Homo sapiens: one gene and its partner. The protein of the gene in region 1 interacts with the protein of each later gene in a pairwise test. Each region holds a gene or a part of one and is shown on either strand. Other genes may lie near its edges.

The links.
Region 2: the proteins of ZNF410 (region 1) and CCNG2 interact in a two-hybrid assay, tested with the Homo sapiens proteins (one large-scale study listed by BioGRID).

Annotation. Positions count from the first base shown.
Region 1 is NC_000014.9:73,889,859-73,894,869, reverse strand, and holds part of ZNF410 (zinc finger protein 410), read right to left. Parts: intron 2,844-5,011; 5' UTR 2,695-2,843; coding exon 2,662-2,694; intron 1,074-2,661; coding exon 938-1,073; intron 512-937; coding exon of another isoform or gene 461-511; intron 1-460. UniProt on the Homo sapiens protein: Transcription factor that binds to the sequence motif 5'-CATCCCATAATA-3', and is specifically required to silence expression of fetal hemoglobin in adult erythroid cells.
Region 2 is NC_000004.12:77,163,073-77,168,083, forward strand, and holds part of CCNG2 (cyclin-G2), read left to right. Parts: intron 1-1,201; coding exon 1,202-1,407; intron 1,408-2,728; coding exon 2,729-2,852; 3' UTR 2,853-5,011. UniProt on the Homo sapiens protein: May play a role in growth regulation and in negative regulation of cell cycle progression.

The DNA of each region.
Region 1 (5,011 bases):
TTTCTAACTGGTTCTTTCCCCTTAGCATAAAGCAACCCTCAAATATCTCAGATCTTAACACAAACAAAAAATTTCCCTCTATCTTACCGCCTTCTCTTTTTCCTTCTCGTACCAGGAGAGACTTTAGAAAGTATGTATTGATAGGCCTGGCGCAGTGGCTCACGCCTGTAATCTCAGCACTTTGGGAGGCCAAGGCGGACTGATCACTGGAGGTCAGGAGTTCAAGACCAGCCTGGCCAACATGGTGAAACCCCGTTTCTACTAAAAATGCAAAAATTAGCCAGGCATAGTGGCACGCACCTGTAATCCCAGCTACTTAGGAGGCTGAGGCAGGAGAATAGCTTGAACCTGGGAGGGGAGGCGGAGGTTGCAGTGAGCCAAGATTGCGTCACTACACTCCAGCCTGGGCGACAGAGTGACACTCCATCTCAAAAAAAAAAAAAAAAGCAAGTATGTATACTCAAGTCACTGCAGCCTGACTTTCCATCCTCTTCTCTCCATGGAACAGGTTCTGCCAAAGTCAATAATGGAGTCCTTTTAGTCCCTATTTCACTGGGCCTGTCAGTAGCATTTGATACAATGATTTCTCCTGGGTTTCATGCCTCCACTCTGCTGATGTTCATCCAACTATTTTAGTCTTTGTTTCTTCCCTCCTTTACAAGTTCTCCTGCCCTACCCTGTACCTTAAATAAAGAGTTCCATAGTTTTGCACTGACCTTTTTTCCCCACTCTCACACTCTCTGGGTGATCATATCCATTCCTATGGCTTAAACTACCAATGCACTAATGATTTCATGGTTGCTTTTTCTCCATGACTCCTAATTTTTACAGTTTCCACCAGTCAGTTATTAAACGATATATTCATTCCACCAGTAACATAGAGTAGGCTAAGCTCTTAAGACTTCTTTATCCTATTTCTAGTGATCTTAATTTTTACCTGGTAACATTAGCCGACTGCATTCTGAGGCTTCAGTCACGGGAAGGAGGGACAAGCAAGTAATATCTTTAGCTTCTGATTCTACAAGCCCCTGTCCCAATGGGATGGACGTATTCTGAACAAACTGTACCAGGAGCTGGGGGGAGAAAAGACAACACTGAGAAATACGAGTTGTTAGAAATGTATCTAAACCTTTGAATTTACCAAAAGATAATATTAAGACTGTTCACTAGTCTCATCCATATTCAAACAAAAACTAAACAACATAATATCTAAAGTTATTTTATCAAGTTCTCTGTTCTAGAGAACAGCTGATTTATATAAAGTCATGTGCTGCAAAACGACATTTCAGTTAACAGACCACATATAGGATGATGGTCCTGTGAGATTGTAATATCCTATTTTTATTGTACTTTTTCCACGTTTAGATATGTTTAGATACACAATGTTTACCACTGTGCTTCAACTGCCTACAGTATTCAGTACAGTAACATGCTGTATAGGTTTGCAGCCTAGGGGCAATAAGGTATACCATACAGCCTAGAGTGTAGCAGGCTAAACCATACAGGTTTGTGTAAGTATACTCTACCATGTTCGCATAATAATGATATCAACTACCATCATATTTCTCAGAATGTATCTCTATCGCTAAGTGACACTTCACTGTAATTAAGTTAACCTCTGCCACCTTCTGTCAAACAGAGAAATGATAAAAATAATTACATTTTAAAATAATGGCTTAAAAAAAATCAACTGCATCATATTGATTACATTTTACAAAACACTTTTCTGTGTACTGGCTCATTTAATTATCGCATTAACCCAGTAAGATTTAAGATGTATTTTTTTTTGAGACAGAGTCTTGCTCTGTTGCCCAGGCTGGAGTGCAGTGGCATGATCTTGGCTCACTGCAAGCTCCACCTCCTGGGTTCACGCCATTCTCCTGCCTCAGCCTCCCAAGTAGCTGGGACTACAGGTGCCCGCCACCACGCCCAGCTAATTTTTTTTGTATTTTTAGTAGAGACAGGGTTTCACCATGTTAGGCAGGATGGTCTTGAACTCCTGACCTCATGATCCACCTGCCTCGGCCTCCCAAAGTGCTGGGATTACAGGCGTGAGCCACCGCACCCAAACTTAAGGCATATTTTACAGCTGAGGAATAAAATTGAAGACATTAAGTGACTTGTCTAAGGTCACAAGACTAGTTAGGAGCAATGCCAATCCTCAAATTTAAGTAATCTGATTCCAAATTCAGTGACCACTCTGCAACACAGATGTGCTAAATTTAAAGTAAGAAAAGTGAACAACAAAAAATGTTTAAATCCCCAATCACATTTAGAAAGAAAATACTTACAGATATATATAAAATAAACAAAAGAATTTGTAGTAGTAAATATTTATATACTTATACACCTATACATCACATGTATCTCATATTTATGTATATATTTATACATAAACATATATTTTTATTTATAAGATTTTATTACATTATCTAAATGTATGATTTCACATATACTGAAAAACAGATATAAAAACAATCACAAAAAATATAATTTTTAAATCTTTGAAAAAATAGTAACAATCAAAACCATATAGCTTAAAAAACCTAAAATATTTATTATCTGGCCCATTAAAGAAAAAGTTTGCTGACCCCCTAAACTGAAGATAAACTTTGAAATATAGCCCACCAAAAGAAAAGGAAACAAGCTGACTGGGCTCACCTCTGGTTTGGATTCTAACTCATCTGATAACATTGATTCAGCTTCCAAAACCTGTAGCTATTCAGGGGACAAGTTCAAATTTAATTCAGAGCCAATGATACCTTCCTGTTATGTTCATATTCCTCTAGGAAATACTATGCTCTTCCCGTAAGATGTTGTACTAGGTGGGTAATCAATGTAACCTAGAATAGGGGTAAAAAAGAGAGAGGGGGCATTAAGAGCAGTGGGAAAACACAGGTACATAAAGACACTTCTTTACATATACAAAAAAAATCACAACAAGCAAGCAAATAAAGAATTCAAACCGAAACACTTCTTTTAAAATACAACAAGCTCAACAGGCATCAAAACCCATAAAAATACTACGCTTTGATGCAGTATTTCAACCTCTAATAATCTAAAAAACTATCTTAAATATGGATAGAGCTATGTCCAAAGATGTCCGTCTTATCCTATGTAATAAACAACTGGAAGCAATGTATACACACACACACACCCCCAATTAGGGAATGGTTGATTAAATATGGCACTGTCACTTCAAAATATGCTGTGAAGGGTTGGGTGTGGTGGCTTACAACTGTAATCCCAGCACTTTGATAGGCTGAAGCAGGTGGATCACTTGAGGTCAATAGTTCGAGACCAGCCTGGCCAACATAGTGAAACCCCCTCTCTACTAAAAATACAAAAATTAGCTGAGCATGGTCGCAGGCACCTGTAATCCCAGCTACTCGGGAGACTGAGGCAGGAGAATCCCTTGAACCCAGGAGGTGGAGGTTGCAGTGAGCCAAGGTCAGACCACTGCACTCCAGCCTGGGCGACAGAGCAAGACTCTATCTCAAAAAACAAACCAACAAACAAATGCTATGAAGACAATGCAACAACAAGTGACTGACATGTTAAATTATAAAAATAAAATACAAAATTATATACTTGCTATTATTAAAACTAGTTATAATAAGCATCAGAAAAAGTAAAAGGAGATTCATACAGCTATGACCGTAGCTATACCGTGTGGTAGGCTGGTGTGACTTAATTTTCTTTTCTCAATTTTCCAATATTTCTAAAAGGCAACCATATTGTTTTGATAATTTTTAAAATTACATTTAAAAAAAAAAAAGTTAAAATTTGAAGAGCGTTTCCCAAAGGTAGTGCTCTCAGGACCCTGATGCGGCTGTTCTCTCTCTTTTATTTATTTATTTAGAGATGGAGTTTTGCTCTTGTTGCCCAGGCTGGAGCACAATGGCACGATCTCAGCTCACCACAACCTCTGCCTCCCAGGTTCAAGCAATTCTGCCTCAGACTCCTGGAGTAGCTGGGATTACAGGCATGAGACACCACACCTGGCTAATTTTGTATTTTTAGTAGAGACGGTTTCTCCATGTTGGTCAGGCTGGTCTCGAACTCCCAACTTCAGGTGATCCGCCTGCCGTGGCCTCCCAAAGTGCTGAGATTACAGGTGTGAGCCACTGCGCCCAGCCACTCCCTATAACTTAAATTCTTACTTTCTTATAGCTTAGTTTCTTTTCAGGATTTTGGAATGTGAGTCCATTTTATTTTGTACAATTGTTACTAAAATTGGGAGCACTATTACAAATAATCATACAGTGTAAAATGTATCCAGGATGGGTATATTTTCAATCAATGGGTACTTTAAAGTTTCCAATTAATACCAGGTAGTGTGGAAAGGTAGAACAAGACAGACTTTACAAAGAGGGCACTTAGGCTGGGCACGGTGGCTCACGCCTGTAAACCCAGCACTTTGGGAGGCCGAGGCGGGTGGGTCACCTGAGGTCAGGAGTTCAAGACCAGCCTGGCCAATATGGCGAAACCCCGTCTCTACTAAAAATACAAAAATTAGCCGGGCATGTGGCGGGTGCCTGTAATCCCAGCTACTCGGGAGGCTGTGGCAGGAGAATCGCTTGAACCCGAGAGATGGAGGTTGCAGTGAGCTGAGACTGCGTCACTGTACTCCAGCCTGGGCGACAGAGCAAGACTCCATCTCAAAAAAAAAAAAAAGTAACTGAATAAATGTTTTTTTGTCCTGTTGGTTTCTCCCTCTCTCTTTCTAAGCTACCTGAAATCCTCATTTTTCATTGTAAAAAAGTAACCATTTAGGCCGGGAGCAGTGGCTCACGCCTGTAATCCCAGCATTTTGGGAGGCCGAGGCAGGCGGAACACAAGGTCAGGAGATTGAGACCATCCTGGCCAACATGGTGCAACTCCGTCTCAACTAAAATACAAAAAATTAGCTAGGTGTGGTGGCATGTGCCTGCAGACCCAGCTACTCAGGAGGCTGAGGTAGGGGAATCGCTTGGACCTAGGAGATGGAGATTGCAGTGAGCCGAGATCG
Region 2 (5,011 bases), on another chromosome or scaffold:
GTCTAGTAGGTGTTTGGCGTTTTGGAATAAGAAGATAAACTATAGTTAGAGATTGAGGTTTGGAATTTCTCATGAAGAAGCAGTAGTTGAAACGGTAAGAAGCTGTGGAATCCTTTTTGTAGGGGTCAGTTGAAGCTCTGGGGTTTTCAGCGTTGGCCTTTCCCCCCAACATTAGGAGCCAAGTGAAGAAAGGTACATCCCCACAAGTAGAAGCACTGTCAGACTGGAAGGAGGTTTTTAAGGAGGTGGTCAGGAGTATTGAATTTTTATAAGAGATCCAATATAATGAAAATTGAAGGTCATTGGGTGTGTCAGAGGTAATGTCAGTAGAGCAGTGAGAAGGAAGTGGTAGAAACCAGATTACAAGTGGGTTAGGATGTAGCTACATTAGGTGAAAATGGGAAGCCAAGAAAATAGATCTTCTGTTTTCTGGTGAAAATATGTGCATGTGAAGCATTTTGTTTGTAACAGATAACTTTTTGCTTTAGTTATGATTTTATTAGTTTTTATCTGAACTTTTTATTGATAGTGATAGCTGGAACCATCTTCAGTGAAAATTGATTCGTTGAAATAAACTGAAGGCATTCCGAAGGAGGAGGGAAAAAAATACGTAAAAAGAAAAACAAAAAAGAAATAAACTGGAGCACTGCCCAGTGGTGGCGGAACTATGTCCTTTTTGGGAAATTCCTGTTCTCTCATATCACTAACTTCTTTAGTTTTGTATCTGGTGTTATAAGTGTGTATTACCAGCAATCCAAACAATGCCTTGTTGCAGGAACCCAAATTGGTTTCTGTAACAAAAGGAATGTTAAATTCCTTTGCATTGAGACTAAGGACTATACTTGATAGCTGATTTATTAACAGACCCAGAGTGTTTTTAGGTCAGTGTTTTCTTAGAATAGGCAAAGCTTTCTGTGTATTGAATCCTATGTAGTTTTATACTTACGGTGCTCTTCTCCTAAACCAGTGGTTCCCAAATTTTGAAAGTTTGGCTGCACATTACAATCACCTAGGGAACTTAGAAAACTCTTGATGCCCATGTTGCACTCATTGTCAATTAAATCAGAATACCAGGGGTGGAAGCGGGTAGTGGGAGCCAGGCATCTATATATATATATTTTTCATAGCTCACCTAGTGATTCCAAGGTGCAGCAAGATTTGGGAGACATTGCCGTAACCTCTTAAAATATTTTTTTTTCAGATTAATGACACTGAGTTCTTCTACTGGAGAGAGTTGGTTTCTAAATGCCTAGCCGAGTATTCTTCTCCTGAATGTTGCAAACCAGATCTTAAGAAGTTGGTTTGGATCGTTTCAAGGCGCACAGCCCAGAACCTCCACAACAGCTACTATAGTGTTCCTGAGCTGCCAACGATACCTGAGGGGGGTTGTTTTGATGAAAGTGAAAGGTAGGCAGGTTCCTTGACTAATTAAACTTCCCTAGACTAAATATTACTGAGTTTATTATACTCAGAACTGGAATAGTGTAAGACATCAGAGAAAGCAAGCACCTACACTAAGAGCTAAGAATTAAAGCCCCCACTCTTCAGGTAAGCAAATTAACCAGAAGTAGTATTTTAATATGTAATGATTTATAAGGTCCTCTCCAATTTTTTTAGTTTTTTTCTTTTTTATATTTTTTTGAGTAGAGATAGGGTCTCGCGATGTTGCCCAGGGCTGGTCTTACATACTCCCAGGCTCAAGTGATCCTCCTGCCTCAGCCTCCGAAGTGCTGAGATTACAGGTGTGAGCCACTGCACTCGGCCTCTTTTCCCTTTTTAAAGTGGTTGTTTTCCATCTTTCTCCTATTTCCCTTGCTCTTGAAATACAGCTAAAAAACCCCAAAAAAACAAAACTGAAAAAGAATTCTGGGCTTTGTAATGTTAGTATGAATTCCTAATATTGTGCTGTGGTGAAGAGATTGAGGGGTAGGTGCCTGGAAAATAAAGGGAATCACCACCACTGATGGGGAAGACTTCTATATATGTTCTCAGAGGTTTGTCAATTGGTGTTGTCTTATTCAGAATTTGATTACTTTGTTTGTAAAGTGAATAACTTTGCTAAATTTGTTTGTTTTATGCCGTAGAGATAAAGGGCCAGAAGTTTCATTTTCATAGCTTGTTAGTTTACTTTGATATTTGACAGTGTAAGTGGTATAATAAATCACTGATGCAAGAAATACATCTAAATAGACCATATGCTAGGAGGTATGTTGTTTTTAGTCTTCATTACTGGATTTAAAATACTTAGAATTCTACAATTCTAATACTTGCTGATAGTTATTAATTGGTACAAGAATAATAGTTTGGCAAATAGTAACTTGTTTAAACTTAAGAAAACCTATATTTTCTTTCTTTCTTTCTTTTTTTTTTTGCATGTGCCACCATGCCCAGCTAATTTTTGTATTAATATTTTTTGTAGAGATGGGATTTTGCCATGTTGCCCAGGCTAGTCTTGAACTCCTGGGATTAAGCGATCTGCACACTTCGGCCTCCCAAAGTGCTAGGATGACAGGGATGAGCCACTGCACCCAGTCCAAAAAATCTATATTTTCCAATGAGATTACTATAGACTTCATTTAGGAAGTCCTTATAAATTTTGTCTCTGTAAAGCATAAATTTTGAATATAAAAATCCTCACTAGAGATATAGCAGCTTTATTTTGGCTATAAAACATTTAAGTGTGTTTTAAGTAATGGTATCCTCTTTTTTTGTCTCTTTTTCTCTTTAGTGAGGACTCTTGTGAAGATATGAGTTGTGGAGAGGAGAGTCTCAGCAGCTCTCCTCCCAGTGATCAAGAGTGCACCTTCTTTTTCAACTTCAAAGTGGCACAAACACTGTGCTTTCCATCTTAGAAATCTGATTGTTCTGTCAGAATTTATATTTACAGGTTTCAAAGCAATAAATGGGGGAATAGGTAGTTTCCTGGTTTAGCCCCCATCTAGTCAGGAATTAATATACTGGAATACCTACCTTCTATTTGTTATTCAGATCAGATCTGGCCTATTTTCATATTTATCCTAAGCCATCAAATGGGGTAGTGCCTCTTAAACCATTAACAGTACTTTAGACATTGGCACTTTATTTTTCTCGTAGATCTTTAGCTACTTTGGGGAGGAGGGAAGGTGCTGATACCTTCAATTTGTTACTTTTCAAGATTTTTAAAAATAACTAGTGTAGCTTATCTTAAACATTTTATAAAACCTTCAGATGTCTTTAAGCAGATTGGAAGTATGCAAGTGCTTCCTTAGCAGGGACAGTGGATAATCCTTAATGGTTTATCATAGATTTCACCCTCCCCCCTTCTCAGAAGAGTGAGTATGCTCTTAAATGTCAAACACATTTTTGTTGTTTTGTTTTTTAAATGATCAGTGTCTATTTGATGTGATGCAGATCTTATAAATTTGGGAATTATAATATTGACATTTCTGTGATTTTTATATATGTAATGTCTTAATTGAGATTTCTGTTAAGGCAGAAATAATTAGGCTAGGGCTCTTAGTTTTCATTCCTATTGCCCAAGTATTGTCAAACTATGGTATTATTTTAATGTTACTTTAAAAATCCATAATCTGCTAGTTTTGCATGTACTTATATGAAAACAGTGCAGTAAGTTGAAAACTCAGTATCTATGGAATTGATAAATGTTGATCTGGTGTAGTATATTTTATCGCATTTTCTTATATTAAAAAATGTCTGCATGATTACATTTTATTTCCTTTGTAATTTACATTTCAGAATAGTGTATTGCTATATGGGTGCCAAGATTGAATATGAAGAACCCGAGTGTTTGTAGTATTATAGTTTTAAGCAAATCTGTGTGGTGATACAGCCATAAGAATGGGGCTTATATAAACTCTGTACATGTAAGATTTTGTACAGAGAATTTTTAACTTTATAAATTGTATATGAACATGTAAATCTTTTAAAATGTACATAAAATACTGTATTTTTTTACCTTGTGTGTGATAGTCTAGTCATTGCATGTAAATATAATTTATTATGTATTCTGTAGTATAAATCATACATTGATGACTTACATTTTTACTGGTAAGTCAACATCCGTTGGATGTTTTCTGAAGTGGCTCTTTTTGAAGTGATAATAGATTGTAATTCAAAATAAAATTATTAATGAATTCTCCTTGTTTGGGATCACATCTTAATTTTTAATCTGTTAAAAGTTCTTGATGTATTTTAATGAGAAGACTTTAGGTGAGGCTACAGTGATTCCAGAGTGAGCCTTCTAACTGGCTAGCAGAAGTTCTCTAGGTTTGGCATCTGTGCCTTGGAGATACTGAAAGAGAATCTGTCATTTGACAATTGACCTCTTTGTGGGATGGACTCATTAAGTATGCTCTCAGAGACTGGTATATTACCAGAATGCCTATTAATTTTCAGTGAGAGGCAACAGGTATTAAGTAGAACAGAATGCTCAGGTTGGCAGATTAGAACGATCTTTCAGGAGACAAAGCAAGTTTTAATCAGTTGTTTGGTTAATAAGTATGGGGTGTTCGCTGTGATAGGGCCCCGCCAGCTTCTGGCTCTTGTGGACCTCAAAAGTATCAGGTGGTTTTGCAAGTGGTGGTCCTTTCCCCTGCCCCACCCCAATAGGTTCCCCATCTGTCTAGTTTGATTTTTGTAGACCTTTGTTTTCTCTAGTTAGAAAATCAGGTACACTGAATATGGTTTTCATGTAACACCTCTTCTCTGGAGATAGGGGTATGTTTTCCTACCCTTCTAGTGGAGAATCCTACTTGAGGATGACCTTTCCTCTCTTACTAAATAATATTAGTAAATAGTGGGCAATATATTCTGCTTTCAGATTTTGATTTGTTGAGATGTAAAAGTTGTTTGGGGCTTACCAAATCTCAAGACTCTCTTTAGCTCCTGCAGGATTGTATTGCTTTTCTTACTGGATATTTTTCCTGGGTAAGCATCTTTGTGGCTTCATCTCTTCCCCCTGTGGTTTTCAGTGTATTTAGTCGAGACCTCTCTGCTGAGCTTGCAACCTGTT